7 linked regions of the Homo sapiens genome follow. The protein of the gene in region 3 purifies or fractionates together with the protein of the main gene of each other region. This does not show direct contact. Each region holds a gene or a part of one and is shown on either strand. Other genes may lie near its edges. The genes, in order: TBC1D9B, WDR44, BTNL9, NCAPG, SLC30A6, RRP1 and INTS4.

What was found.
Region 1: the proteins of BTNL9 (region 3) and TBC1D9B purify together in Homo sapiens (affinity purification with mass spectrometry; one large-scale study listed by BioGRID and IntAct). This does not show direct contact.
Region 2: the proteins of BTNL9 (region 3) and WDR44 purify together in Homo sapiens (affinity purification with mass spectrometry; one large-scale study listed by BioGRID and IntAct). This does not show direct contact.
Region 4: the proteins of BTNL9 (region 3) and NCAPG purify together in Homo sapiens (affinity purification with mass spectrometry; one large-scale study listed by BioGRID and IntAct). This does not show direct contact.
Region 5: the proteins of BTNL9 (region 3) and SLC30A6 purify together in Homo sapiens (affinity purification with mass spectrometry; one large-scale study listed by BioGRID and IntAct). This does not show direct contact.
Region 6: the proteins of BTNL9 (region 3) and RRP1 purify together in Homo sapiens (affinity purification with mass spectrometry; one large-scale study listed by BioGRID and IntAct). This does not show direct contact.
Region 7: the proteins of BTNL9 (region 3) and INTS4 purify together in Homo sapiens (affinity purification with mass spectrometry; one large-scale study listed by BioGRID and IntAct). This does not show direct contact.

Annotation. Positions count from the first base shown.
Region 1 is NC_000005.10:179,890,625-179,894,731, forward strand, and holds part of TBC1D9B (TBC1 domain family member 9B), read right to left. Parts: intron 3,991-4,107; coding exon 3,762-3,990; intron 2,844-3,761; coding exon 2,585-2,843; intron 963-2,584; coding exon 755-962; intron 1-754. UniProt on the Homo sapiens protein: May act as a GTPase-activating protein for Rab family protein(s).
Region 2 is NC_000023.11:118,390,792-118,394,898, reverse strand, and holds part of WDR44 (WD repeat-containing protein 44), read right to left. Parts: intron 2,268-4,107; coding exon 1,628-2,267; intron 845-1,627; coding exon 714-844; intron 1-713. UniProt on the Homo sapiens protein: Downstream effector for Rab11 which regulates Rab11 intracellular membrane trafficking functions such as endocytic recycling, intracellular ciliogenesis and protein export.
Region 3 is NC_000005.10:181,050,003-181,054,109, reverse strand, and holds part of BTNL9 (butyrophilin-like protein 9 isoform a precursor), read right to left. Parts: intron 4,023-4,107; coding exon 3,741-4,022; intron 911-3,740; coding exon 794-910; intron 644-793; exon of another isoform or gene 642-643; coding exon 609-641; exon of another isoform or gene 79-608; coding exon of another isoform or gene 1-78.
Region 4 is NC_000004.12:17,838,226-17,842,332, reverse strand, and holds part of NCAPG (condensin complex subunit 3), read right to left. Parts: intron 2,658-4,107; coding exon 2,496-2,657; intron 2,263-2,495; coding exon 2,124-2,262; intron 1,727-2,123; coding exon 1,640-1,726; intron 1,147-1,639; exon of another isoform or gene 24-1,146; coding exon 1-23. UniProt on the Homo sapiens protein: Regulatory subunit of the condensin complex, a complex required for conversion of interphase chromatin into mitotic-like condense chromosomes.
Region 5 is NC_000002.12:32,207,159-32,211,265, reverse strand, and holds part of SLC30A6 (zinc transporter 6), read right to left. Parts: intron 1,774-4,107; coding exon 1,705-1,773; intron 370-1,704; coding exon of another isoform or gene 305-369; intron 1-304. UniProt on the Homo sapiens protein: Has probably no intrinsic transporter activity but together with SLC30A5 forms a functional zinc ion:proton antiporter heterodimer, mediating zinc entry into the lumen of organelles along the secretory pathway.
Region 6 is NC_000021.9:43,799,543-43,803,257, reverse strand, and holds part of RRP1 (ribosomal RNA processing protein 1 homolog A), read right to left. Parts: intron 3,689-3,715; coding exon 3,609-3,688; intron 2,742-3,608; coding exon 2,644-2,741; intron 2,397-2,643; coding exon 2,377-2,396; intron 985-2,376; coding exon 871-984; intron 1-870. UniProt on the Homo sapiens protein: Plays a critical role in the generation of 28S rRNA.
Region 7 is NC_000011.10:77,984,554-77,988,660, forward strand, and holds part of INTS4 (integrator complex subunit 4), read right to left. Parts: intron 1-4,107. UniProt on the Homo sapiens protein: Component of the integrator complex, a multiprotein complex that terminates RNA polymerase II (Pol II) transcription in the promoter-proximal region of genes.

The sequences.
Region 1 (4,107 bases), 1.2 Mb from region 3:
CAGGGAGGTCTTTAAGTTAAGAATCTCACTTGATTCTTCTTATAATTAAACAGTCAGAGCCCTGCTTGGCCACAAGGAAAAGGAGGCCTTGGGACCTGTCCTGACTCAGTCTCATGCCTTCTATTTGGGCAAGGGCCCTTGTCCTTGCTGTCCACACCCCTTCGGTGCAGTGCAGGACAGATGGCCTTGCTCCCACCAGGGTCACTGTGGAAGTCCAAGAAACCCAAGAAGGAGCAAGTGAGAGCCAATGCAGCCTCACAGGGGAGAGCCGACGCCGCCCCACAGGGGAGAGCCGACCTCTGATGGCCTGCTGGAGCCGAGCCACGCCAAGGTGGTATGTCCAGAGAGGACTGGTGAGGTGGCCTCTGAGAGTGACATATGGGACCGGTGCAGGAACACGGTCCTCTAAGCGCAGCCACGGAGCAGCACTTTGCCCTGCAGGGCCCAGAAGGCAGGCCTGATGGAAACTCACGCGTGGGAGACCCTGTCTCCACTAGGCAAGTGACCTGAGAGGGCAAGCAGTGTGCCCCCACCATGTTACCTGCCTCCCCAACAGGGCAGGTGCCTGTGGAGGGGCTCACTTGTCCTACACCCTCCACCTGTCCCATCACTGAGTGACATGTGACTGCCTGGGCTAGGGCATCCTCCCAGGTACCCCCCAGTGAGACAGGGCAGAGCAGGACAGGCTGGTCCCTGAGCCCACTGACACCTCGGGGCTGGAAAGGCCTTGGCCTCTCAACTAGGGGATGCTGACCTCCCTCAGGGGTATGATGAGGTGGCAAGCGTCCTCCTCCTTGCTGGCGAAGCAGATGTAGTTGTTGGAGATGAACATCTGGCCAGGGATGTGCAGCTTGTTGAACGGCGTCCACAGGGTGCAGCTTGTGTGGCCGTCTAGCCGCTCATCCCTGGGCAGCCGGAACGTGGCTCGGTAGCACTCATTCTTGGCTCGGGCGTCCAGGTCTCTGGGGAAACAAGGTAGGAGGACAGGAGGAAAGGGGACAAGGTCAGGACCAGCACACTCTCAAGGAAGCCTTGGGGCCTCCCCAGGCCTGTTTCCACATCAGATTCAGGATCCCTGGGGTGGTCCCTTGAGCAAGTCATGCTCAGGGACCTCAGAGTTCAATAAAAGATGCATGCTGAGTGAGCAGGCAGAAGGTGAGACAGTCACATAACCAGCGGAGAAGTGGCCAGCAAGCAATGTGTCCTGAGACTGCTTTGAAAAGGACACACCTAGATGCTGGCCTGGGCAATGTGCAACCCATCCCTCGGTACTGATGGGCAAGCAGAGCCCAGAGCACCTGCCCTGGATCCCACTCAGATGGAGGGCCCCGGGCAGCTCTTCCACCCTGGGCAGGCCTAACCCCAGGTTTCACCTTGAAACCTAGGTGAGGAGCTCCCCACAGGGAGGTGTGGAGCTTAAACTAAAGCATGCGGCTGCTAACAGAAATGCACACCTGTGTATCTGATGGCTGTGACAGTGGCCTGGCCCAGGCCCTCACCCCTTTGGTGGCTCTGTCCACATAAACTCTCCCAGCCCCAAAGGGAGCCTCCTGCCTGCCCTGGGCCGCAGTGGCCTGACCAGGGCCTGACTGCATTCTCACCGGCAGTGCCAGGAGCAGTCATGTTCCATCTCTGCTCGTGTTCTTTCCAAAAGGTCCAACAAGCCAACCTGTCACTTGCATCCCAAGGACAACATGCTTGCACAATTTTCTGGTCCTGGAGGTGGACCCCAGAGTTTGGGCCTGGACCACAGTCTGTGGGTGCAATGCAGGAAATGGCCTGGCTGGAATGAGGTCGCTCAACACAAGGGTGTGAATCTGGCTGTGGTCAGGCTGGCTGTGGGACCCAGGGAACCTCAGAGATCTTGTCCAGCCTCTGGAGTTTCCCATAAGCTACAACCTAGGAACCCAAACGTTAAGTAGCCCGGGAGGGCTGGCTGCTATGATGTGTTCCTGCCTATCGGTCCCCTGGACAGGGCAGCAGGGAACTCAGACCCACACATGGCCCATCTCCTTGGCTGGCTTCAGACCCAGAGGTCTGCTTCCACGTCAAACTCAGGACCCCTGGGGGTCCCATGGCTGTGAGAGGCCTCTGGCCAAGGAGTCTCAGGGTATACAGGAGAGCTGTCAATCACGGTGGGACGGAGGCCGTGCACTTGAGCCCAGATTTACCAAAGCCTTTCTGGGGGTGTCAGAACACCCTGGCTGAGGTGGCTACATCCTGGCTCCACTGCTCACTAACCGAGGGACTTCAGGCAAGTTACTTAACCTCTCTGTGCCTCAGCTTCCTTGTCTGATACCTAGGGATGGTAAGAGCCCCTTCCCATCATAGGGCCAAGAGGAATAAAGTGTGAAGAGCTTCCTCCCCATTAGTGGTATCCTCAGGACATCACTGCTATCTCCTGCTGCCTCTCCACACGGGACTGCAATGATCTGTTTACCTGGCTTCCTTCCCAAGTGGGGAGCCCATGAGGGGTGAATGTGGACACCTTCTCCAGGTCTACACACTTGGACCAGGCAGGTCCCAGCCAAGGTCAGCGAACCTGGCTCACATGAGCCCACCCCAGCCCTGGAGGGCAACGCACCGCTTCAGGGCTGAGATGTTCCTGTGTGGCCGGATGGGCCTAGGCAGGGCCTTGTCCTCCAGGAAGCCCTCGCTGTCCAGCAGCTGCCGCATGGCCAGGTTGGCCAACTGCTCCATGAGCTTGAAGGTCTCGCCGATGTTGAGGAACATGGAGAAGAAGAGCTCCTGGTCGCGGGTGTCCACACGGATGCTCTCGGGGAAGAGCAGGGTGGCGTTCTTCTCCAGACGCGTTATGTCCACCCACTGCACCACGAGGCTCACTGTGCCCACAGAGATAGACACACCGCAAGTTAGGGCCTGGCAGGGCGAGGCTCCTGATGCCCATCTGTACCCCAGACCCATCCCAGGGAACTGCTCTCTGGGGGCAGCACTTCCTGTGTGCCCAGGCCTGTCTGGGCTGTGTCACGCCCTCCATGTGGAGGGACCAGGCCACTGAGGTGTCCACTGCCTTCCAGACCAACCACACACGGTGAGTGTCTCCCCCACCAGTGGCTGAAGGGGAAAGGAACGAACGTGCGGAGGTGAACCACCGAGACCCACCCAGCAGCTCCCCCAAGTGGGAGCGCACGGAGGTGTGAACAGTCACAGCACAGCGCGGCCAACACAGAACAGGACACAGCCCCTGCTGACGGGAGGTGACTGGCCACCTGGTCGTGACAGGTAAGCGGCAAGGGCAGGAGGGGGCACAGGGAGGCTGTGGGCTGAGGGAGGCAAGGAGGGAGGAGGGCTTGGTGGGCTTGGGGATGGCTAAGACCCTGGGGCTCTTTCTGGAGCTGCTGGGAAATCAGGCTCGCATCCTGTGGCCGGGATGTCTGTAGGGAGGAACCTGCAGCAGATGAGGGCTGTGGCACGCACCCAAGGCATTGCATGACATGGAATCACCAGGAATTTGGGACAGACGTGTGCCTGAATACGCCAGTTCAGCAGAAGAGGGCAGGGCAGGCACGCGGAGTCACCATGTAGAGAACCCTACTAGCGAGTGGGGGGCATGGTAAAAGTCGGCTGGGAGCAGGTGTACGCCTGGCCAAGGCCGGACAGTCCCATCTTGGGCCGCTAAGGTGGCATTTGGGTTTCAGGGAGACCCCTCTGGTGGCCATGTGGGGATGGAGTATCTGGGGGCCGAAGGCAGGGAGGGGCTGAGGGTGTGGGGGCTGGGGCACACTGAGGGGCGGGCTCACCTTCCTTCCCCAGCAGGAAGGAGTAGAAGCACAGGTGGTTGACCGTCAGGTACAGCCAGCCCTGCCGGGGCACGCGGCCCTTCCAGTAGCTGCAGGAGTAGTAATTCACCAGCTTCTCGCCCTCAGGCATCCCAAACTGCTTCCGCATCTTCAGCTCAGCCTCCTTGAACTTCCCGGGGTCCTCGTCTCCCTGGGGCTGCAGGTTCTTGTTCTCTTCTGCGATGATTCCCTGGAGGAAGGCAAGAGGACAAGGGCTTGCCCTGCACAGTCCCGGACAGGTCAAAGGGTGGAGCAGAGAGGCCCAGGGAACCCAGGACTCATGGACCTTGGTCTAAGGGCTACAGGC
Region 2 (4,107 bases), on a different chromosome or scaffold from region 3:
CAGTAAATATTTAAGGCATTTTTGTTCATATAGAGTCTCTGTCACATATTCTTCTTCTTATTTTAAACAACCTTTAAAAATGTAAAGAACATTCTTAGCTTGGGGAACCTCCTAAAGCAGGCCACTACTGACCCCTGCTCTAAGGCTATAACAAGACTATAGTGTCCTATATTCTAGTGTGGTAGCCTGGCCCACCACAGCTACCATGTAAGTAGCTCTGAGTCCCAGAATCTGGCTGTGGTAAAATTAGTGTTATCAAGTCTTTTGTGTAGCCCGCTTCCTAGCATATAAAGTTTTTCTATGATTAGGAAAAGGAAATTATAAAAAAAAAAAGTCTTCAATTCTGACCAATACAGGACAAACATAGACTATAGTTGGTGTTTATTAGTACCAACAATATTACAAATAGTAGCATCTGTCGTTTTTTGAATACCTATTACCTGCTAGATACTTGGCATATTTTAGCTCATTTCAAACCCTCAAGGAAGGACTTTTCCTCCATTTTATTGATGGGGCATCTGAGATCCAGATGCTAAACAGCTTGCTAGGCTCACCCAGTTAGCATGTAGCAGAGCTGATCAAGAGAAGTAAGGGGGTCAGGTTTGGAGGACAAAGAAAAATCTGGCCTGGAGAATACAGAATAATCATCAACAAACCAGCCAGTTGCAGGGAGCTGATAAAGTCTATATGAAACAGAACACTAATTCACCAACCTGGGCGGTAACTATTTTATCTCCACTGGTAGCACTTGCCAAATCAAGAGAAGGCTGAGAATCCTTAACCGTACTTTCTGAAGCCATGCTTGCGGTTAGGAGAGAATCAGACGTAATATTCTCTTTGGGAACTGCAATGATAATAATAACAACAATAATAACAACCCTTTTTGTTTGATTCTTGTAACAACCCTGTGAGGAAAGTGGCTTGATTACTCTCATTTCCTATACAGGGAAACCATGGTTCAAACAAGTTATTTAATTTCCTCAAGACTATACAGCTCATACAAAAAAAAGATGCAGGACTTGAATTCAGACTTTAGGTCTCCAAATCCCAAGTTTTTTTCACCATGCCACTCTCTCTCAGATGGCAACAGAATTGAAAGTTTGAAGTCTGCTGAAGTGTTCAATTACAGTAAAGTAATTTTCACCAATGTAAACATTTTTACATTTTGTCTATTACTAAAGAAATAATTTTAATAACTTGGTTGCCAGTGAGTTTTTTAATAAAGTGAAATAAAGGCAGAAAGGTAAACAGTTTCAACTCCAAAATTTCACCACAAAGAGTTATTTCTCTCTTTTTTTTTTTTTTTGAGACAAGATTTCACTCTGATCACCCAGGCTGGAGTGCAATGGCGCGACCTTGGCTCACTGCAGTCTCTGCCTCCCAGGCCCAAGCAACTCTCCTGCCTCAGCCTCCCAAGTAGCTGGGACTACAGGCGCGTGCCACCATGGCCAGCTAACTTTTGTATTTTTTTTTGTTGTTGTTGCTCAGATGGGGTTTTGCCATGTTGCCCAGGCTGGTCTTGAACTGAGCTCAAGCGATCCGCCCGCCTTGGCCTCCCAAAGTGCTGGGATTACAGGCGTGAGCCACTGTGCCCAACCAACAGAGTGATTTCTCAATTAATACTTGCCATCTATATCAGGAGTTTTCAGAGTCTCAAATTCCAATTCGCTTTTCCTTTTTCTTGGTGGTGGAGCAGGTCGAGAAGGAGGTGGGGGTCTAGGAGGTGGGAAATTAGTTGGAGGAGGTGGGCGTGCTGGAACAGGCTTCTTTGTACTAGCCACTATATCAGGCTCTGGAGTAAGGTGTCTTGGGGGTTTGGCAGGGGCCACTTCTTCCACAGCGGCAAAATCTTTAGTAGATAAGGAGTCTGAGGACACAGGCTCTAAAACATCACCACCTCCTTTGACTTCCACTGCTTCCTTGTTCAATACTTCTGTTTCAGTTTCAAGCACATTAAGCTGCTCAGTTGAACTTGTTTGAGTTAACTTCGTGGTTTCATCTACTGGTTTCTCACAGGTTTCATCAGAAGGAAAGCATTTTTTTAATTCTAATTCAGTCTCTTCAAATGTATTCTGACTCTCTGCCTTTTGGGATTCTTCCGGTAGTACTTGATCTATGGCTAACAGTCCGGGTATATTGCTCAGATCTGTTCTAGCCACAATAGGACTGGCAGTAGCTTGATCAGAGAGTTCTTTTCCTTTGGAATCCAAAGAGTCATCTTCAAGCTGTAGTACTTTCTGACTCTCCTCAATAATACTTTCAATAATCTGATGAAAGGGTTAAAAGTAGTTTTTAAAAATGAAGCTATTTATAAGAACACAGTAACAGCTAATCATTTACATAGTACTTAGTATGTGCCAGGCAATGTTCTTAACACTTTACATATTTTAATCTTTACAACAACCTTATGAGATTCTACTCCTACTGTCACCATTTTACAAATTAGGGAACTAATCAAATGATTTGTCCAAGGTCACAAAGCTAGTAAGTGATGAAGCAGGTATAAACCCAGGGAGTTTGATTCCAGCATCTATACTCTTAACCCTCATAATAGCAAATTTGTGTTAATACTTAGGTACAAAAGATCAAATAATCCTGTAAAATCAAGTTCAATCCTAAACTTACATTAAGACTCAATATCCTGATTCATTTACATATTTATGCCAAACTTGTTGTAATACCAGCCTAATGGTTTGAGCCTACTTAACCAAACCACGATAATCCAAATCCCCAGGAGAAGAATTCAAGTTGTTTAGCTCTGAACTCAAGCTTATGACCCAAAAACCAGCAGATGCAGGGAGATTAACATTCTTAAACAGACTACACCTAAACTCCACTATGTGGACTGATGGCAGGACCATGAAAAGAGTTCAAATACCCAGTCCACCTTGTCTTTTCCCTTCCTTTCTTTTTCTTTTTTGAAATGGAGTCTCACTCTGTCACCCAGGCTGGAGTGCAGTGGCACGATCTTGGCTCACTGCAACCTCTGCCTCCCAGGTTCAAGCAATTCTCCTGCCTCAGCCTCCCTAAAAGCTGAGATTACAGGTGCTCCACGCCGGGATAATTTTTGTATTTTTAGTAGAGACGAGGTTTCACCATGTTGGCCAGGCTGGCCTTTAACTCCCGACCTCATGTGATCCACCTGCCTCAGCCTCCCAAAGTGCTGGGATTACAGGCATGAGCCACTGCGCCTGGCCCCCTTTCTTATATGTAGCTTAAAATATAAACAGGCTTTCTATTATCTTCTGCCAACATTTAGAATATATTTTCTCCCCAGTCTTGTCATTACTAATATTAAATCTCCCAGATCACTTATCCTGCCACCATGTCCAACCATGAACAACTTCTGCTTTCTCAATTCCCTGGCTTCAGAAAGTTAACAGAATGCATCATAGAACCATCCTAATCTGGTTTACTACAATTTCATGCTAACTTGAACTGGGTATTACTGCTGCTCAGTAATATTCATCCCTGATTTCTTAGCATGTTCTATATGTTAGTTTTTCTCAAACTTCAAATTGTTAACCTTAGAAATTACCTTGCTTTCACCAAAACTAACCAGAGTCCAACCAATTTGTCAATTAGGTGGTTACTGAGCACTGAGAACCTCAATGATAACAGTGATAACAGAAGTCATATTACAATGGATTTGAGATTGAATAAGAGGTGAAGATACAGAGACATTAGCACGGTCTGAGTTTTCAAAAAGCTTAGCTATAAATGCAAAAAGACTTCGATAAAGTGACCCAGCACTTTTATAACCTGAAGGGAAGGAACTACTGGAAAAGAAGATAACAGAGCAATGTTCTGGAAAAGAAAGGAAAGAAGGCCTACTGTGTATTAGACCTAGTATACACATTCTCATTTAATTGTCATACAGGCCTTTGGGTTAGGTAGCTGGATTACCTCCCTCCTAGAAAAGCAGGACTCTGAGGTAAAGGCTTTAAGAATTTTGCCAGTCCCACAATTAGTAAGCTACAAAGCCAAAACTGAAATCCAGGTCTTACTTAAAAATCCAGTGATCTTTGTATTATACCACACTACTTTGGACAGAAAACAAGAATACTAAATCTTCAGTGATGGATGACATGAAAAAAAGGTAAGAAA
Region 3 (4,107 bases):
TGCGGGCCCAGGCTGGGCTGGAAGTGAGGCTCCAGGCAGGGGATGGGGAAGTGCGCACCCTTGGCTGCCCTTCTGCATAGGAGGGTGACCCAGCGCCCTCCCTCCTGCTAGTGTGAAAATCAGGGTCGGAGCCTCCCAAATCTATTAGCTCGGCGGAAACGTTAAGCCCCGGACACTGCCTCACGTAACTGGGCTGTTTTCTCGGTGCCTGACCGCCGCTTCCTGACCCTGTGCGGAGATGTTGCGCATCCGCCCGACTCCCTGTGCGCTATGAAAACCTGGACGAGGTGGCGCTGGCAGCAGAGACCCTGGTCACCGCTCCCTCTGTACAGTGTGATGTGAAGCTCCGAGGGCGTAACGACAGCAGCCGGTCAACCCTGACATCTGTGCACTAGCCTCCGTGGAAAATGCAGCCGTTCCGCACCTCCGCTTTTGTCCATATGAACGATCTTCCCCCTTCCCCACCGGGGTCACCGATCCCCGTTCCCCGGTGGCCGCCCTGACACCTCGCGCTGGAATAAACCCTCGTAACGGGACCCACAGCCTTTAGATGACGGCGGGTTTTGGCACTTGGGCAGGTGCGTGCAGAACGCCCTGTCCCCGCTCACCTTGTCTCTTCTCCGCCTGCTTCCTCAGCTTTTCTGAAGGGAAACGGGAGCGGAGAGGGCTGAGTGCGCGCCCCCGCCCCTTCCAGGCCGCCTTCCCGCGCCGCGTCCTGGGGGGAGGCGCCTCCGCGGCCCCGGGGTTCAGCACCGGCCGGTGCCCCTCCCCGCCCCGCCGCCCGCGCCGGTACCTCGGCTTCTCCGCTGCTTCCGGAGGACGCCCAGCGCCAGCGCCGCGAGGACCAACAGCAGCGGCAGGGTCGCGACGAACGCGCTCTTCCACGCAGAGGCTCCGGGTACGAACACGTCTGGAAAACACCCGCGGGGGCCGTGTCGGTCCAGGCGCCGCTGAGCACCGAGAGGCGAGACCGGCCTGCCCGCCGCGTGCCGGGAAACCTCCCGCGGGACCTTCTCCGGGCGCCACCGCAGCCGCCTGGGAAACGGGCGTGGAGCGGGAGCGCGCGCGGCGGAGGGGGCGGGGGCGCGCGCGGCGGAGGGGGCGGGGGCGCGCCGCGGGGCGTGCGGGAGGGAACCGCGCCCCAGCCCGGCTCGAGGCTTCTGCGGCCGCAGCGCCGCCCTCGCCCCGCGTCTTCCCGCCCTCGCCCCGCGTCCGCAGGCGGGAGGGTCCCAGGGGCTTGGCTGGCGGCGGATGTCCGGGGAGCTCCTGCTCGCACCCGCGCCGTCTGGTCCGCAAGTCGTCTCCTCGCTTGTTTGCAAACATCCGGCTTCTCCCTCGGTTCTTACCACGCTTTTGGAAGAAGTGAGAACCGAACCACGTGCGCGCGGCCTCGCAGCTCCCACGTCCCTCCCGGCTCCCCAGGGAGGACCCGCCCGCAGGCAGGACGTGGCCGGGGGCAGCGCCGACAGCACCAGCGGCGCAGGGACGCGCAGAACCCACCGGCCCTTCGCAAACCCTGTGGCGGTTGAATAGAGTAACTTTCTGTCTGTGTCATCTAGTTATTAGAAAATGGTGCTTTTATCTCAGATCTTTAAAAAATGTTCTTTTTATTGTAGTAAAATATACGTAACAACCTTTCCCATCTTAACCATTTTTAAGTGTACAGTTCAGGGGCATTAAGTGCATTCACCATGTCGTGTGCAACCATCACCCCCGCCCATCTCCAGAAGTTTCTTCATCTTTCAAAACTGAAACTCTGTACTTATTAAACAGTAATTCCTCTTCCCACGCCCAAGCCCCTGGCGCCCTCCGTATACTCTCCATCCCTGTGGACTTGACTCCTCTAGGTAATCCCACATCCGTGGAATCAGACGGCATTTGTTCTGTGTGTCTGGCTTATAAGTGACATCAGTGGACTGTGGTTTTTAATTTTGTTTTTCTAGCAGTGCATTTTTATTGTATGGTACAAAAACACTGGGTCACAATGGATTGGTCCTCACAACAGATGGTGTCTGAAGCAATGGCCTGGGGTCAAGGGCAAGGGCTCAGGGCGGACTGTCTCTCTGACCTGTGACCCTCCCCCTCGACCCTCTGGCCTCCTCGCTGTTCTGCCAGCAGCCGGCAGTTTCCCTCTCAGGCCCCTGGCTTTGCCCTTCCCGCCACCAGAATGCCTTCCCAAAGGTATCCATGTGAGTCACGCCCTCTGTAGAGGGGTCCGCGCATGCAAACATTTACCCATCTAAAAATTTTTATATAAACTTGTTTCATAATAAATATCAATAATATAAATTAAGATTTATATTAAAAGCTAAAAAGAAAATATTGGGTTTTTCCTGGTGCAAAAAGAGAGACTCTTTCCTCTTCCCCTCTCTTAGTTCATTTTCCTTAGAAAATATATCAGTTCTTTCTTTACAACCCAATAATGTTTTCCTTAAGGGCCACTTGTTTGAAATGTAAACATAAAAGAGAGAGCACTGCCGTGGAGATCCCTGTCTCATGGGAGTTTAGCTTAGCTGCGTGGCTCCAAGTTGTATGCCCTAGACGTATCACATGCTTGATTTTTCCTTTGGTTAAAGACAGTTGGCTCACACAGATGGCCATCCCAATTCCCACGGAATTTAGAACTGCTGTGGTAAGCGGTGTTGCCAGGTCCTCCTACTTGCAGACAAGTTATCATTTATCTTGAGAACATGTGTGCATTGGCTTGTATCTGACTGACTATATCAAAGGGGGAGTTTTTTTCTGTTATAATAAAATAGCTTTTGATTTGGACTCGTGTGAAAAGTGGCCCGTATGTTGGGTTTGTCCTTAAAATGTAAAACAATTAGAACCATGAACTTGAAACCCTTCAGTGGCTGCCTCATAATAAGACTTTAATAATGACCTTGCCTTCAGCTCACTGCCTACACGCCCACTTCCTGGACGTGCCTTTTGTAATCTGTGGACATGCCTCACTGCTTTCAGCCTGCTTCATTTTTCTCTACGGCACCTACCACCTTCTTCTTGTTTTTTTTTTTTTTGTTTTTTTTTTGAGACGGATTCTCGCTCTGTTGCCCAGGCTGGAGTGCAGATCTCGGCTCACTGCAACCTCTGCCCCCCGGTTCAAGCGATTCTCCTGCCTCAGCCTCCCGAGTAGCTGGGATTACAGGCGCCTGCCACTATGCCGGGCTAATTTTTGTAATTTTAGTAGAGATGGGGATTCACCATCTTGGCCAGGCTGGTCTTGAACTCCTGACCTCATGATCCACCCGCCTTGGCCTCCCAAAGTGCTGGGATTACAGGCGTGAGCCACTGCACCCGGCTGCACCTACCACCTTCTAACGTGATGTGACAGGATGCACTTCTTTTGCTTATTGTCTGTATCCCCCACTGGCATGGGGACCTGAGGGTAGGGACTGGGGTCACGTTGTGGAAACTCAATACATACTGTTTGAGAGACAGCATTACGAATCTATTGGCTCCCATGATGCCTCTGATGAGCAGAGTTGATGGGTTTTAGTGTATGGCCTTAGGCACAGAAAGGCGGGCTCTCTGGGGCCTCTCTCACTGACTGTTTGGGTTCTCAGTAGCGTTCTTAGTGTGTTCCTAATATCCAAGGTGCTGACTTTTCAGGTGTCAAGGCCAACACACCCTATATGCAGACAGGCGCAGTACCATTGTGTCTTTATAGACTGCCTTTGGGCCAATGTGTATGTACACATGAGGACTAGGAAGATGGGTGTGAGCTAACAGCCACTGACCTGCTATCTGGACCACCAACTCTTTCTTCTGGCTCAAGAGGAGATTCTGGATGGAGACGGACACATTGCTGAGGGCTCCCGCTCGGACAACCACAGATGTTTCCAGACTGAACAGGTCCTGGGCATCCCAGACGATGGCTTCAAACTCTGGAGGCAGGCACTGTCCCTGGTGGTCTCTCCACTGAACCTTAGGCTTGGGGTACCAGCCACTGGATCTGAGCCTCAGCTGAATGCCTCCTTCCTTGAAGCCCTCAAGGGAGAGGTGAGGGTCTGAGCCCAGCCCTGGTGGAGGCAGGAGGAGTGGGAAAGGTCAGGCTTCTTCTGAGAAATCACGCATAACATTCCTGCCACTGTTCAGCATTTGCAG
Region 4 (4,107 bases), on a different chromosome or scaffold from region 3:
TGAAACTGTCACTTTTCTCTGTCCTTGAAGATAGTATAATTCATTATCAGGATTTATTATCAGTTGCTTTTTGTTTTTAATCTAGTTTCTAGGCTAACTAAATCCTTTGTCTTCAACACAACAATCCTTTCAACACATGTATCTCCTACTTGTTCTAGCCATCTTGGTACCAGTTATCACTGCCACAGAAAAAGGAACCCAAGCAAGATTAAAACTTAATTTATTTTGTAAGCACTAATAATGAGTAAGGGAAAATAAGGAAATTTCAAGCAAGTTAAAAGAAGGCAAATTTTAGTTCAATGTATTTGAGGACAGTATATGAAAAATGTGTTATAATGAAGTACCTCTATTATTGCTATAGCACAAAGTCTGTGGAGACTCATGAAAATTAAGGGTTAGAAAGGTAGGTTAGGTGCATAAACAGGTGCTAAAGAAACAACTTTTTTTTTTCTTGGAAGGTGATAAAACATAGTAAGGTAATAATGGCTTCTTGTAAAATAACATACATGACCAATTCAAATGTGTTCTAAAATATATTTCAATGTAAAAACTAGAACCTTTATATACTGGGGATTATAAGATTCTACTTACTAGAAATTTACAAGGTTAAGGAGTAAGACAAAGTTTGGCTTGTGATGTTTCTCATTTATAAGGAATAAAACAATATGAATATATGAAGTTTGGTCTATTAAAAAGGATGGTGTTCTCATGGTGTGATATACCACAAAAAAAATCTGATCAAAACCAAACTGTTCAATGTGACAGTCTGAAAATTATATACTCTACTTCATTCATGTTACACTTTTTTCTACTCCTTACCTGCTTTTACTAATGCATTTATCCCCAAGAAAACATCCAACAATATGGGACTAATTTGGAACAATATCCAGCAATTGGTATTTAAATAATTTACTGGTTACAAAACAATATTATGACCAGACTCCATTTTAGAAAAAATTAAATCTGCATCGAAAAGGGCCTTAAAAAATAGATTTCTAAAATCAAAATCATGGTTGGCTCATGGGTGGGATTATTAGTGTTCCTTATAGTAGTTTGTCTGGATGTACTTTCTGATTCTTCTGTAATAAGCATGCATTGCTTTTGTAATGAGGAAATAATAAAACAATAAAAAGATCTTGAATTTCAGATTTTTTTCCAAGTGACCCCCTAATAGTCAGCATTTACTTTGCCAACAGATCCCCTATTGTTGGATAGCCCTTGGGAAATAAGTTGGGAAAATATGAAATAAGATGGGAATAGAAGGAAAACAAAGCCCAGAAAAATACTACAGGGATTTTTTAAAAATGCTTAGTTACAGGAAGGATAGAACACAAATAACTAATATAAAACCATCATTTAACCAAATCTTAATTTAACCCAAATTGTCTTTTGTAATATCTTTTGCATCATACTTCTTTCAATCTAAAGCACCAAGAGCAACACTGATTTTATAATCTTTAGACACAAGGCAAAAACTGACATCCACAGAAAGAATTAAAAAGAAAGGATACCAAAGACATTTTAAAAAAAATCTTTATCCCTAAGGAAACAAAGATAAGAAAACTTGCAAAACAAGTATTTTTCATTGGAAGATAAAATTTAAAACTTTTATCATAAAGATGGTCAATCCACACACTACCTCTGTTAGTCTTTAGCTGAGTAGACTTTGATGCTTGGGTTGCTTTTACACCCCTGAGTGGAGTCATATATACTTCTTTATTCTTTTCTATTAAAGGGAATAATACAACAATATAAATAAGATAACCTCATGAAATATTTTAAATTGTCTTTTTAAGACCAGTTTTTATAAAACTGAAATGACAAAGTCCTTCTAGCAGCTAGTGAAAAGTTATAAATCACCCTTTCGAAAATTTGAATATTGGAAAAAGAAGCAAAACTCTTAAAAAGATGGTCATATGTTGAGAAATGCATGCCAAAAAACACTTGAAAAGCAGAATAAACATTTATCAGTAATGCTCTTTCCCAAGAGGATTAATTAGAAAAAAAATTTCATTCATTTCTGATGTCCAACCAAACATGTTAGAGTAGAAAAAAATATGTCTCAGTAAAGATGGAAAAAAAAAAACAGAACCTTATAAATATTCTGTTCAGTATGTGATTACCATCTTCATTTTGGAAAGTAGTTGTAGTCAAGGTGGCATCCTGTGCTGCTTCAGCTTGGTCACCAAATTCTTTATTTCCTTTTTCTAACTGAATCTTGATTTTCTCCAAAGCTCTCAGACATGTCCTATCTTTTACTTGCTATAAAAGAAAACATTATTAACATTTTGTAAACACCGCATTCCCTAATCTTTGAAAATAGTACCAATACATATCAAGTTGTTTAAAAACACTAAATTATATGAAATTTATGAAGAAAATACTTCAAATAAGTCACAATATGCTAACATATGTATAATCTAATACAACCATGTAAATTCTACATGTATAAATATAAACACAAACTAATTTAGAGTAATGAGAAACTACTTTACCTCCAGAATCTCATTCAATAGAACCAGAAGATCTTTTGCAAGATGGCTACTGAGTTCTAAAGAACTCAAGGCTTTTGTATAGACTCGAATTTCTGGCGAGCACGGACTTGTTAAGATCTCATTGCAAATTTTCATAGCCAAATTGTCATGTACTGTTAAGGCCTAAAAAATTAAGAGAAAATTCTCTGTAAATTGAAGATGATTATGATTATTATATAGTCTTACACATCTAACAAATATTTCCAACTAATTTTCTTGCCATAATCCCAAATATAAAATGTCTAAAACCAAATTTAACATCCTCCCTACCCCCAAAATAAGCTCCCCTTCTTGACTTCTTGTTGTGGATGTTGTGATATAGGGCCCAGTTCCACTCCCTTTAGGAAAGATGCACTCATCCCCCAGTTGCTGCATGTTTTGGAGGGTAAAAGTTCCCAGCTGCAGTACTGATCCAGGCTGACAATGGTGGACTTTGGTGGACCTTGTCCAAGATCATACCTCTTCTCCCAAAGATTTGTCCAAATCCAATGACTGGCCCGTGCACAAGTACAGTGTTTCAGCTTGTCTCCATTCTGGACAACTCAAAGGAACATCCCAGTTCCGGAACTCCCTATGGGATTGGCTGGGGCCTTTGTTTGCATAGCAGTAGTTGAACTTAGGGCTATGCCCCAATCTACTTTTCCCTTACTCTTCCAAGACACTGATCATGAGAGTACTCCCCAATTAAACTATGTCAACAGCTCCTTTGAAGTCTGCTGTTACACATACTTAGAGTTTTCCTGGACTCCTCCATCTCCCTTGCCTCTCAAGCTCTTTCTTTTAGATTCTTGTACCCATAATTCTTTATTAGGTCAATTTCTATTCTTTCTACTATTACTTTCTAGTACTTTTTCTACAAGCGAATTATACAGATTTTCAGCTGCTTTCTTTATTAATATTCTTTTCTTTCTGCTCACCAATTCATCTCATATAACCACCACTGACCACCAAATTAATCTTTCCAATAAGTGGTTTTCATGACATTAACCCTTTCATCATAAGCCCTGCATAATTATCCATTGCACATAAGGCCAACTCCAAATTCCCTACATTGGCCTTTAAAGCAATCTATAATCTACCCCCAGTGTTGTGCCCTAACAGTCCTATTCAGGATCCTTAGCCAAAGTCATCTTTCTACAGTTCCCCAATATTTGCATAACCATCTACATATATCACCTTTACTAAAACATCCTTCCTCTACCCAAACCACTCCCCAAATACCAACAAGGCCTAACTGAATTTTGGTCAATGAGTTTTAAAACTAATGCTGTACTCATCATTCCTACCACATGACTCTTGCCCTTGTCTCAAGTCATGAAGTGCTTAATAGCTCTATTACTGACCCTTACCTAATTTTGCCTAATATCCTTTGTAATCTTATCTTTCCAATAATATACAACATATGAATTGAACAGAGTAGCTTATCACTAAATATCAAATAAAATAGAGTAATACTTTCAACTTAATCTGTTAGCATCTGAAATCACTAATACATTAAATTTCAAAAATGGTAACAAGTTTGACCAAATGCCATTAAAGGATTAAAACAACCCAGCTTAAGTTCAGTCTGTGA
Region 5 (4,107 bases), on a different chromosome or scaffold from region 3:
AAGAAGTGTAGTGTGGTGGGTCCCCCACTAGGTTATTCGATGATGTATGTCCGCTGCCCGAACTCTGAAGGCCAGGCAATGAGCCAAAGCCATGGTGTACAGTCGAGGAGCAAGCGACCCTGAGAACCAAAGATTTTAGAGAGCATCTGAGACCCTACCAAGGAAAACAGTCTCATTACACACATACAGCAGGCAAAGAGCGAGAAAATTAGCTTAAAAGCAGCTTAGAAATGGGAGGTGGGTAGATCTCTAAAGCTGTCCTGCTTCCCAGGAGTGCCCCATAGGTAACTCCTAACAAACTCACCTACTGGCCATGCTGGACCTGTCCAAGTCATTCTTTGGTCTCTTGACACTCTGGTCATTTGGCACCTTCCCAGTAAGGAGGGAGGGGATGTTACAGTCTCAAGTTTTTCTTGTAATAAGTTTTAGACATCCAAAATAATGAGAGAGGGAAAGAGTTGGGGAAGGTGGAGGTGAAGCAACCATTTTCCCACTACAAAAGCATAGCCTGAAACTAAAGACTGCAAAGTGGGTAATATCATTGAACTGCTAGACCAGCTTTGATCTGTTTATCTATAAAATTTGTGTTATATTAGAAAAATCAAACCCTATCTGTTTTTTTTAATGATACTGTAGAAGAGTATTTAATGACATAGAAAACTGTTCATGATAAATTAATTAAACAAAAAGAGCTAATTATAAAACAGCATGATCTCATTTTCTGTTGTTTTTTTTTTTTTTTTTTTTTTTGGAGACAGAGTCTCACTCTGTCACCCAGGCTAGAGTGCAATGGCGTGATCTCGGCTCACTGCAACCTCTGCCTCCCGGGTTCAAGAGATTCTCCTGCCTCAGCCTCCCGAGTAACTGGAATTACAGGCGTGTGCCACACCCCACGCCCAGCTAATTTTGTATTTTTAGCAGAGATGGGGTTTCACCATGTTAGCCAAGTTGGTCTCAAACTCTCAACCTCAGGTGATCTGCCCGCCTCGGCTTCCCAAAGTGCTGGTATTACAGGCGTGAGCTACCACGCCCAGCCCGTGATCTCATTTTCTAAGGAAAATAAATGTATAAACACCAAAATATCAACAGCAGTTTTCTTTAGATGATAAGATTATAGTGCTTTACATTTTCTGTATTTTCCTCATCATTCCTAACGTACGAGTAAAACCGTGTCATAATAAAGTCTCTCTGGTATTGAGGTTCAAACTGAATTAGAAAATACGAAATTTTATGCTGAAGCAAGTTGTGTTACTGTAGTTCTTCAAAATATTCAGCAAACTCTCCAAAATGAGAACTACAGTTAAAAAAGAAAGCAATTGCACTTTTAATTTTTTTTAACATTTTCTTATTTGGAAATTACACTGACTACAAATTTGTCTTATCTGGACACTCCTGTATTATTATCATTAACATGTTTGATGGAAAAAAAATAAAAACATTCCTCTATTGTTTGGGAGATTAAGGCGGGAGGACTGCTTGAGGCCAGGAGTTCAACACCAGCCTGGGCAACAGAGTGAGACCCTGTCTCTAAACACCAAAAAATCCCTCAATTAGGTAATTGAATTCATGTACATTTTAGACTCTGCTTAACATAACTAGGAATCAAAGGCTCTATAAAAATTTTAAGGAAATATTTTTTTTCAGTTTTAAAAATGGAAGACTATATTTTAAATTATAACTAAAGTCATATGTAAAAGAACATACCAATGAGCCAAAACCTAGGGTCCAAAAATGTTCATTTCGGACTTCTAAAACTCCATCTAAGGTAGATACCTACCAAAAACAGAAAGAGGTGATCAGAGTTGTCTGTACTTAACATATCCAATGCAGTTTAGTCACATTATGGACTTAGTTTAAACTTAAGAATGACAGCCAAATCCTGCACAAGGACACTCATTAGCTAAGAGAAGTCTCAGACCACTCAAGATACCATTCCTGTTTGTTCCATACTGACCCAAGACCTTGCTTTCCTCGTTTCTTGCTTGCCCCAATTCTTTTAGAATCAGGTCCCCACTGCTCAGTTTTAAACCCCTACCCCAACCAATTTCTTCAACAGTGTATGGTTCTTTTCATATCAATATGGAATATATTTATATCTAGCACTTTGTGGTATCAGATTTTTTACTTAATTTTTTTGTTTTCTCAATCACTTCTTTCTCTGAAATCCCTTATAACAAATCTCTGCACAACACAGGATGTTGTTTGGATGTGAGTCTAGAAGAAATTCCAAGGCCAGATATATAGTGTGTAGCCCACTGGTACAGTTGCACAGGACACATACTCAAGGCCAGGCTTCACTAGTTGAGAGTAGTAGCCAGTTATACTGGTAAAAGTGGCCTCTGTCACACTGACAATCAAAGGTTTAAAATAGTTTCAACATCAAAATAGTTCATTATTTTATTTCTTCATTAGTTAGTAGGTGGAAATTTGTAACAACTTAAAAGAAAGTCTAGGCTGGGCATGGTGGCTCATGTCTGCAATTCCAGTACTTTGGGAGGCTGAGGTAGGCAGATCACTTGAGGCCAGGAGTTCGAGTCCAGCCAGGCCAACATGGCGAAACCCTGTCTCTACTAAAAAAGTACAACAATTAGCCGGTGGGAAGCAGAGAACACGGCACTGCACTCCAGACTGGGTGGCAGAGTAAGACCCTGTACCCCCTGGAAAAAAAAAAAAAATCACAGCATTTGACCGGGCACAGTGGCTCATGCCTGTAATCCCAGCACTTTGGAAGGCCAAGATGGGAGGATGGCTTGAGAGCAGGAGTTCAAGACCAGCCTGGTCAACATAGCAAGACCCCATCTCTTTTTATATATATATTTTAAAAAAACAACAAAAGGCTGGGCACAGTGGCTCATGCCTGTAATCCCAGCATTTTGGGAGGTCACAAGGGGCGGATCATTTGAGGTCAGGAGTTCGAGACCAGCCTGGCCAACATGGTGAAACCTCGTCTCTACTAAAAATACAAAAATTAGCCAGGCATGGTGGTGGGAGCCTGTAATCCCAGCTACTCAGGAGGTTGAAGCAGGAGAATCGCTTGAACTCAGGAGGCGGAGGTTGCAGTGAACCAAGATCATGCCACTGCACCCCAGCCTGGGTGATAGAGCAAGACTCAGTCTCAAAAAAAACAAAAAACAGGCTGGGCACGGTGGCTCACACCTATAATCCCAGCACTTTGGGAGGCCGAGGCGGGTGGATCACGAGGTCAAGAGATTGAGACCATCTTGGCCAACATGGTGAAACCCCGTCTCTACTAAAAATACAAAAGTTAGGCCGGGCCTGGTGGCTCATGCCTGTAACCCCAGCACTTTGGGAGGTCGAGGTGGGTGGATCACGAGGTCAGGAGTTCAAGACCAGCCTGGTCGAGATGGTGAAACCCTGTCTCTACTAAAAATACAAAAATTAGCCAGGCATGTGGTGGGCGCCTATAATCCCAGCTGCTTGGGAGGCTGAGGCAGAAGAATCACTTGAACTCAGGAGGCGGAGGTTGCAGTGAGCCGAGATTGTGCCACTGCACTCCAGCCTGGGCGACAGAGCGAGACTCCATCTCAGAAAAAAAAAAAAAAAAAAAAAAAATACAGAAGTTAGTTGGGCGGGCCAGGCGCTGTGGACATGCCTGTAATCCCAGCACTTTGGGAGGCCGAGGCGGGTGGATCACAAGGTCAGGAGTTCAAGACCAGCCTGGCCAACACAGCGAAACCCTGTCTCCACTAAAAATACAAAAATTAGCTGGGTATGGTGGCTTGCATCTGTAGTCCCGGCTACTCAGGAGGCTGAGGCAGGAGAATCACTTGAACCTGGGAGACGGAGGTTGCAGTGAGCCAAGACGGCACCATTGCACTCCAGCCTGGGCGACAGAGCAAGACTCTGTCTCAAAAAAAAAAGAAAAAGTTAGCTGGGCATGGTGGCACGCGCCTGTAGTCTCACCTACTCAGGAGGCCGAGGAAGGAGAATTGCTTGAGCCTGGGAGGTGGAGGTTGCAGTGAGCTGAGATTGCGCCACTGCACTACAGCCTGGCAACAGAGCAAGACTGTCTCAAAAAAAAAATAACTAAATAACTAAATAAAATAAATAAAAATCATAGCATTTATAATAGGGTGGTCATTAGGC
Region 6 (3,715 bases), on a different chromosome or scaffold from region 3:
GTAGGCAGGACTGGGCTCAAGGCAGAAGGGGAGGTGGAAGAACAGGACGCCAGGCAGTGCCAGGTCCTGAACGCCAGGGCCGACAGGGTTCACACAGCCAAGGGCCGGCTACAAAGAGGAGGCCACTGCCTCATGGGAAATGAGATGGACGGCTTCAATGGCACGGAGCTCTGGGCAAGGGAAGGGGTGAATCCCTAGGCCCTGGGGCCAGTTTAGCATGGAGAGAGTAACAGGGAAGGCTTCCCAGTGTGGGGCAAAGCCACCATGTGCCTCCTCTGCACCCCATTCTTGCCATGGGCCCCCTGCCCTGCCCGGCACTGTGCTCAACCCCCTCCACTGCAGGTAGGCAGCTCCAGGCCCTGAGTGGTCTGCCGCGGACCCAGGGTTGCCCCTGGTGAGGGCATCACATGCCAACCACACTCGTGTGGCCAGAGGCCCAACACGGAAGGCAGCCCCAGAAATCAAGGACAGAAGTGGAGGGAAGAAGTGGAGGGAAGAAGGGGAAGGAAGACGTGGAGAGACTCAGGAATCTCTGGAGGGTGCGGGAGAGGAGCGGACGGGGCTTGGATCTAAGACGGAGGCACGGAAGGAGGCAGCCCAGCCAGGAGGATGTCTCCAGACCGGGAGGGAGGGCAGCGCACACAGCTCGGGGGAGCTGCAGACAAGGAAGGTGGGTGGGGGAGGCAGGGAGAGGCCTACAGGAGGGATGCCGAGGACAGGGCATTTCCGGGATGCGTGGATAGCAGGCACCCAGGATGGGGGACTCGGCACTCATGCTTCAGGGGGAGACACTGCAGGTGACCCCCATCCAGGGGAGAAGCAAGCAGGTGAGGACGCCGGCTCCATGACTAACACACCCCCTAGTCCTACCTCTCTCCTGCTGCAACCTGAGCAGACGCTTCTGCTTCTTCGTCTTCTTCTGCCGCCTCCCTTCAAGCAGGCGCCTGCAGGCCTTCTCTGGGATCTCATCTTCAGGGAAAATGCCTGAGAACCAGGGCAGAAGTCAGGGGGCTCTCGGGGGCTGGGGACTTATGGTTTGAGGCTCGCTGCTTCCAGCAGGCCCCAGCCAGCACCACCTCCTGACAATGTGTGTGAGAAAGCGCCCTGTTCTAATGCCCAGGAGCAGCGTGTTCAGTACCCGCCACAGCTGAAACGAACCAGCTGAGACCCAAGCCCATCTGGAAAAGCCAGTTCCTGGAGCATCCAGGACACAGGTACAGCATAGAGCGTCCACGACCCCAAATGCCTGGGACCAGCAGTGCTTTGAATGTCAGGTTGTTTTGGAACGTCTGCATCATATTCACCAGTTCAACAGCCCTCACCTGAAAACCCCAAACAGAAAACACTGCGACGAGCATTTCCCTGGAGCTTCCTGTCAGCACTCAGCTTTGGACTTGGTGGCATTTTGGATTTGGGGTTTCAGATTAGAGACGCTCAACCTGTACACCAAAGTCTACAGCCTACAATGCTCATGCTGGCGGCCCAAGGCAACTTTCTGCATCAAAACCTGCCAGATGCACACGATCCTCACGCACCTCACTGACGCGCGCTGTCCCGAAAACCCCAGACGACCAGCCGGGCAACACAGCGAAACCCTGTCTCTACAAAAAATACAACAATTAGCCGGCGTGGTGGCGTGCGCCTGTGGTCCCAGCGACTGGGAGGCTGAGGCGGGAGGATCGCTTGAGACCAGGAGATCGAGGCTGCAGTGAGCTGCATCACACCACTGCACGCCATCCTGGGCAACAGAGCGAGACACCGCCTCAAAAAATAAAAAATAAAAAAACCAAACCCTGGACTACAGCTGATGACGCGCCCGCTGGCGGATGCAGGGGTGTGATGCTGGGATAGAGGAGCTTCACGCAAGGACAGGAAGTGCTGATGCTGGAGGCCGGCAGGGACACGCAGACATCCACTATAAAATCCTTCCAACTGAGTTGCAGGTCTGAAACTTTTCATAAGGAAACACCAGGGGAAACGCCTACGTCTCTAACCATCGACGCCCACTAGGAAACCGTCCTTCCGATAACCTATGCCAGTTCCATCCGCCACGCGCTGCCAAGAACAGACGTGTGCTGCCCAACAGACCAGCAGCAGCACCGCGGTCAGTGCTTGGGAGCCCCTGAGGCCAGCACCCCATCTCTCAGGCTCTGGGGCACTCCAATGGACACTCAAGTCTGAGAACCACTCAGCAAAAACCACAAAAACGAGAGCTGTGGAACCCTGCGCCCTGCCTCCCTGTCCCTCAGAAACACCACCAGGCCTCTCTGCAAAGAGACTCCACGTGCTATGAGACCCCTAGAACCAAACCACTCCCACGAGGATGGAGCTCCACCTCCAAGGTGGTGCCACTGTCAGTGCCCGGCCGATCCTCACCTCCTGCCAGGTCCTGCAGCCTGAAAGAGTAAGACAGATACCCACTTACCACAGCTGCGGCTTCCGCAGGAGGAGGAAGCTCCAGCTAGAGCGGCTGCAGGTTCCTAGCCAGGGGAACCCCAGGGGCTGGGGACGGTCTCAGGGTCCTAGCGGGGATCACCCCGGGGGCTGCGGAAGGGCCCAGGACAAGGCAAAGGCACCCAGATCTGAGCAAGAAAGGGCAACTCCAAGGGGAGCAGGGAGGACGCAGCGCCCTCACACACTCACTTCCGGATCACTTTGTAGAGACGCTTTCTGTTCTGAGAAGGGGTGCTCTGGCGGCTGGCCATTTCAAACAGTCTGTTAGCAACTGCCTCGTAGTCAAACTGTTTCAAAAGAGAGACGTCACAGAGGCAAGGTCAGCCACGCTCTGCGTGCTCCGAGAACGTGGAACCCCTGAGACCCAGATAGCACTTGGTCCCACTTGCAGGTTCTCCACCCGGCTCACAGGAACACAGCCCACCCTCACTGAGGGTCCTGCAGCTCCACCCACTCTACAGCACAGCGGGCACCACACAAGCTGCGGGCGCACTGCGGGGCACGCACTGCGGGGCACACTCTGGAAGATGCACACTGCGGGGCACACTGCAGGGCACACGCCCGCCGGTAGCCTGCCTGCAGCTTTACCACTCTAGGAACCACACAGACAAGCACGAACAACATAGGTTAAATTGATCAATTTTAACCCAAGATAGCCACATTTTATTCAGTCTGCAGATAATCATATTTAAAACTTAAAACATTTAAGTTTCCAATTTGCCTGAAGTCAGACCCCACTGGCTGAGTGGATTCCTCGCTGGGACCCACAGGCCAGCCGCTTGGCACATGCCATCTCATTCCCCACCAGCACCCCAACGAGGGGGCCGCAGGAAATCTGGGGGGCTGCCCATGTGTGAGGCAAGAGGACAGCGTGAGGTGAGGCCAGCCCTGGATAATGCAGTTCTGCCTGAGCCCACCCTCCCAGGCCCCAGCCCCACTTTCCCAGGCCCCAGCCCCACTCTCAATGATCCCACTCGTCTACAGGCGGGCAGGGTTGGGGCACCCATCCCTCCTTCAAAGCTAACCCCTGTCCGGGTAACTCTCCATGCCAACAGCTGCCATCCTCCCTCCTAACGCCCCCCTCCTCTTCCAGAGCAAGCGGTAGCACAGAGGGGCAAAGGCTGAGGGCACAGCCATGAGCCCAGGGAACCCACCTGGAGAACGGGGCCGCCACTGTCCCTGTCGTCACCTGCCTGCTCCTCACCAGCCTCAGGTTCAGCCCTGCAGATGGAGCCTGGAACAAAAGGGACCCCGTGAACCC
Region 7 (4,107 bases), on a different chromosome or scaffold from region 3:
GGAGGATTACTGTTTAATGGGGAAAGAGTTTCAGTTTTACAAGATGAAAAGAGTTCTGGAGATGGATGGTGGTGATGGCTGCATAACAATATGAATGTACTTAACACACATGAACTGCACACTTAAAATGGTTAAGATAATAAATTTTAATTGTTACCACAATTAAGAAATGATTAGCCAGGCATGGTGGCACATGCCTATAGTTCCAGCTACTTAGGAGGCTGAGGTGAGAGGATTGCATAAGCCTGGGAGGTGGAGGTTTCAGTGAACCATGATAGCACCACTGCACTCCAGCCTGGAGTGAGACCTTGTTAGGAAAAAAAAGGGAAAAAAGGGGGGGAAAAGAAAATAAATGTAAATGAAAAAAAAAAAAAAGCAGATAAGAGAGCATCTGACCTAGTGACATTCCTTATCCATTTGGATACTTTACTCAAGTTCTTTTACTTTCTGAAATAATCCCTTAGCACTCCTTCTACTATGACACATAAATGATCTCCTTCACACCTGAGCTAAAAACAGAATTACCTCCAGGGAAGCCTTCTCTAATAATTGTTTCTTCTGACCATTAAAACTGTCTTGGTTCAGGCTTTCATCACCTTTCCCCAAACTTACAGTCTTCTAATTGGTCACTCTAACTCCAGTCCATCCAATTCCTTTATCCTCCATACTTCCCCTCAGAGTGACATTTCTAAAACAAAAACTGACAAGGTAGAATACAAGGCCCTTTAGAATCAGATGCCTTCCAAATCTTCTGGTCTTATCTCTTGATGAGCTCCCAACCTAAAATCTGCACCAGCCAAACTAGCTGCATTTCTTCTAATGTGATAGCCTGTCTCACATCTCCATGCCCATGTTCACGGTTGCTCACAACTAAAATGTCTTTCCCCCTGTCTTCCAACTGGCCAAAATCTATTTCTAGGACTTTTCTCAAGCATCGCTACCACTCTATAATGCATTTCTGGATCCCTGCTTCCAATAATTAATCGCCCCCTTCTTTGAGGCCATATCATAACCTACCCCAGATTTCATAAGACCTGAAACACTGTATTGTTATTAATTCATTTCTTATTTACTCAAGACTCAGATCAGGGATTACATCATCTACATCTCTATTACCAACATGAAGCACAAAGCCTGGCACAGAGTAAGTATTCAGACATGCTGAGCAAATGAAAAAATAAGCAAATGGAAAACTTTAGCACTTACTATCTACATACTACATATATGGTCTGCCGACTACACTGCTAGCCCCTAAAGGACAAAGAACATATCTCACAGCTCTGCATCCTCCATAGCTACTAGCACAGTAGCATAAGTGAAGAATCAATCATGTGAAATAAGTTCAGATACTAATGCCTGATCACAAAAAAAAAGTAGGAAAAAGCAGAAGCCAGAGTAGTTTTATCCACTAAAATATTAACATAAAATACCACATTTCTGGATAGAACAGAAGAAAGGGTAAAAAACACTATGGTCAACAATCTAGAACTGGGTCCATCTGGCATCCCTCCTCATTTCCTTAGGAGCTAGGGTCCACTTGATTAATGCATGCAGCATGGACTGGTTAAAGTGCTTGAGATCTGACATCAGAACACCTGAGTTAAATTTTGCTTTTAGACATGACAAAAGATTATGTTTTTTAAGAGTCTTCGCCACATTTATGCAGCCAACAGACACATGAAAAAATGCTCACCATCACTGGTCATCAGAGAAATGCAAATCAAAACCACAATGAGATACCATCTCACATCAGTTAGAATGGCAATCATTAAAAAGTCAGGCAACAACAGATGCTGGAGAGGATGTGGAGAAATAGGAACACTTTTACACTGTTGGGAGTGTAAATTAGTTCAACCATTGTGGAAGAGAGTGCGGCAATTCCTCAAGGATCTAGAACTAGAAATACCATTTGACCCAGCAATCCCATTACTGGGTATATACCCAAAGGATTATAAATCATGCTACTATAAAGATACATGTGCACGTATGTTTATTGCGGCACTATTCACAAGAGCAAAGACTTGGAAGTAACCCAAATGTCCACCAACGATAGACTGGATTAAGAAAATGTGGCACATATACACCATGGAATACTATGCAGCCATAAAAAAGGATGCGTTCATGTCCTTCGCAGGGAAATGGATGAAGCTGAAAACCATCCTTCTCAGCAAACTATCACAAGGACAGAAAACCAAACACCGCATGTTCTCACTCATAGGTGGGAATTGAACAGTGAGAACACTTGGACACAGGGCGGGAAACATCACACACCGGGGCCTGTTGGGGAGTGGGGGGCTGGGGGAGGGATAGCATTAGGAGAAATACCTAAAGTAAATGATGAGTTAATGGGTGCAGCAAGCCAACATGGCACATGTATACACATGTAACAAACCTGCACGTTGTGCACATGTGCCCTAGAACCTAAAGTATAATAATAAAAAAAGAGTCTTCACCACTTAAAGATATAAATCAAAATTTATGATTAAAATAATATGATGCCAGGAATTTATTTTCATAAGAATCTGGTGGAGAAGGTGAGGGTAAAGAAGTAGAAGTGGATTGGGGAAGAGGGAAAATGAAACAAGTTTGGCCACAAAATGATAATTTTTGAAGCCAGGTAATGGGTACATGGGAATTAATTAAACTATTCTCTTTACTTACATAGTATATATCTGAAATGTTCCATAACAAAAGGTTTTTTAAAAAAAAAACCCAAGTTCAAATCCATACCTTCCATTTACTAGCTGGGTGACCTTGGATACTAAACAGCTCTAAGCTTAGTTCCATATCTGGAATTTAGAGATAACAATGGTGCTGTCACCAGGATTAAATAAAATATTACATATGGAAAGTGCTTTCAAACTCTAACAAGCAATATAATGTTAACTGCTCTAAGAAGTATTATTATAGATGATTATTGGTAACAGATCTTTAATATAATAATAATGGTAGATATTGCTAAGAAAAAGACTAACGGAAAATAGATCACTGAGAGATCGAAAACTTCTTGAGAACAGAAATCCTGATTTTGGTCAGATGTGGTAGCTCACGTCTGTAATCCCAATCCTTTGGGAGGGCCAAGCAGGAGGGTTGCTTGAGCTCAGGAATTCGCGACCAGCCTGGGCAACACAGAGAGACTCCATCTCTACAAAAAAAATTAAAAAGAAAAAATTAGCCGGGAGTGGTGGCATGTGCCTGTGGTCCCAGCTCCTCAGGAGGCTGAGGTGGGAGGATGGCTTGAGCCTGGGAGTCCAGACTTCAGTGGGCAGTGATCACGCCATTGCACTCTAGATTGGGCAACAGAGCAACACTCAAAAAGATGCCAGGCACAGTGGTTCATGCCTGTAATCCCAGCACTTTGGGAGGCTGAGGTAGGTGAATCGCTTGAGCCCAGGAGTTTGAGACCAACCTTGGTAACATGGTGAAACCTCATCTCTATCAAAAATATAAAAATTAGCCAGTCTCATAACCCAGTCTCTAGATAGATAGATACGATTTTTTAAAAAATTTTTTAAAGAAAAGAACAACAAAAAAAGAAAGCCTGATTTTATTCACGTAAAACATAAGTGAAACATTTATAATGTCCCTTCAATGTTCCTAGGAACCTGCCAGGCACTGGGATAGAGACTAATGGATCTGCAGCCTCTGAATTTACGGAGCTCAAAGTCTGAAGGAGATAGACACATATGGCAAACAATTGCAACGCATAAGACTTAACAATTGTGCTAATGGACACCGTCCAGTGCCCAGAACAAAGTCTGATATATATTTGTTGAGTAAAATGTATCACAAAAGCATCAATTAATTCATTTATTCATTCAACAAATATTTATTTTACCAGGCACTGTTCTTGATTCTGTAGAAACAACAATTAAAAAACATAAAAATCCCTGCTCAAGGGAAGCTTATGTTCCTGCATGGGGAAATGGACAAGGAACATAATTAACAAGAAATTATACAGAATATTAGAAGATGGTAATTACTATGGAGAAAACAAAATCAAGGAAGGGGACTAGGAAGTGCGGGGTGGGGATAGGCAGTTTCGATATGAAACAGAAGGGTAAAGGAAGACCTCAATGTAACGGTGACATTTGCATGCTGATAGCT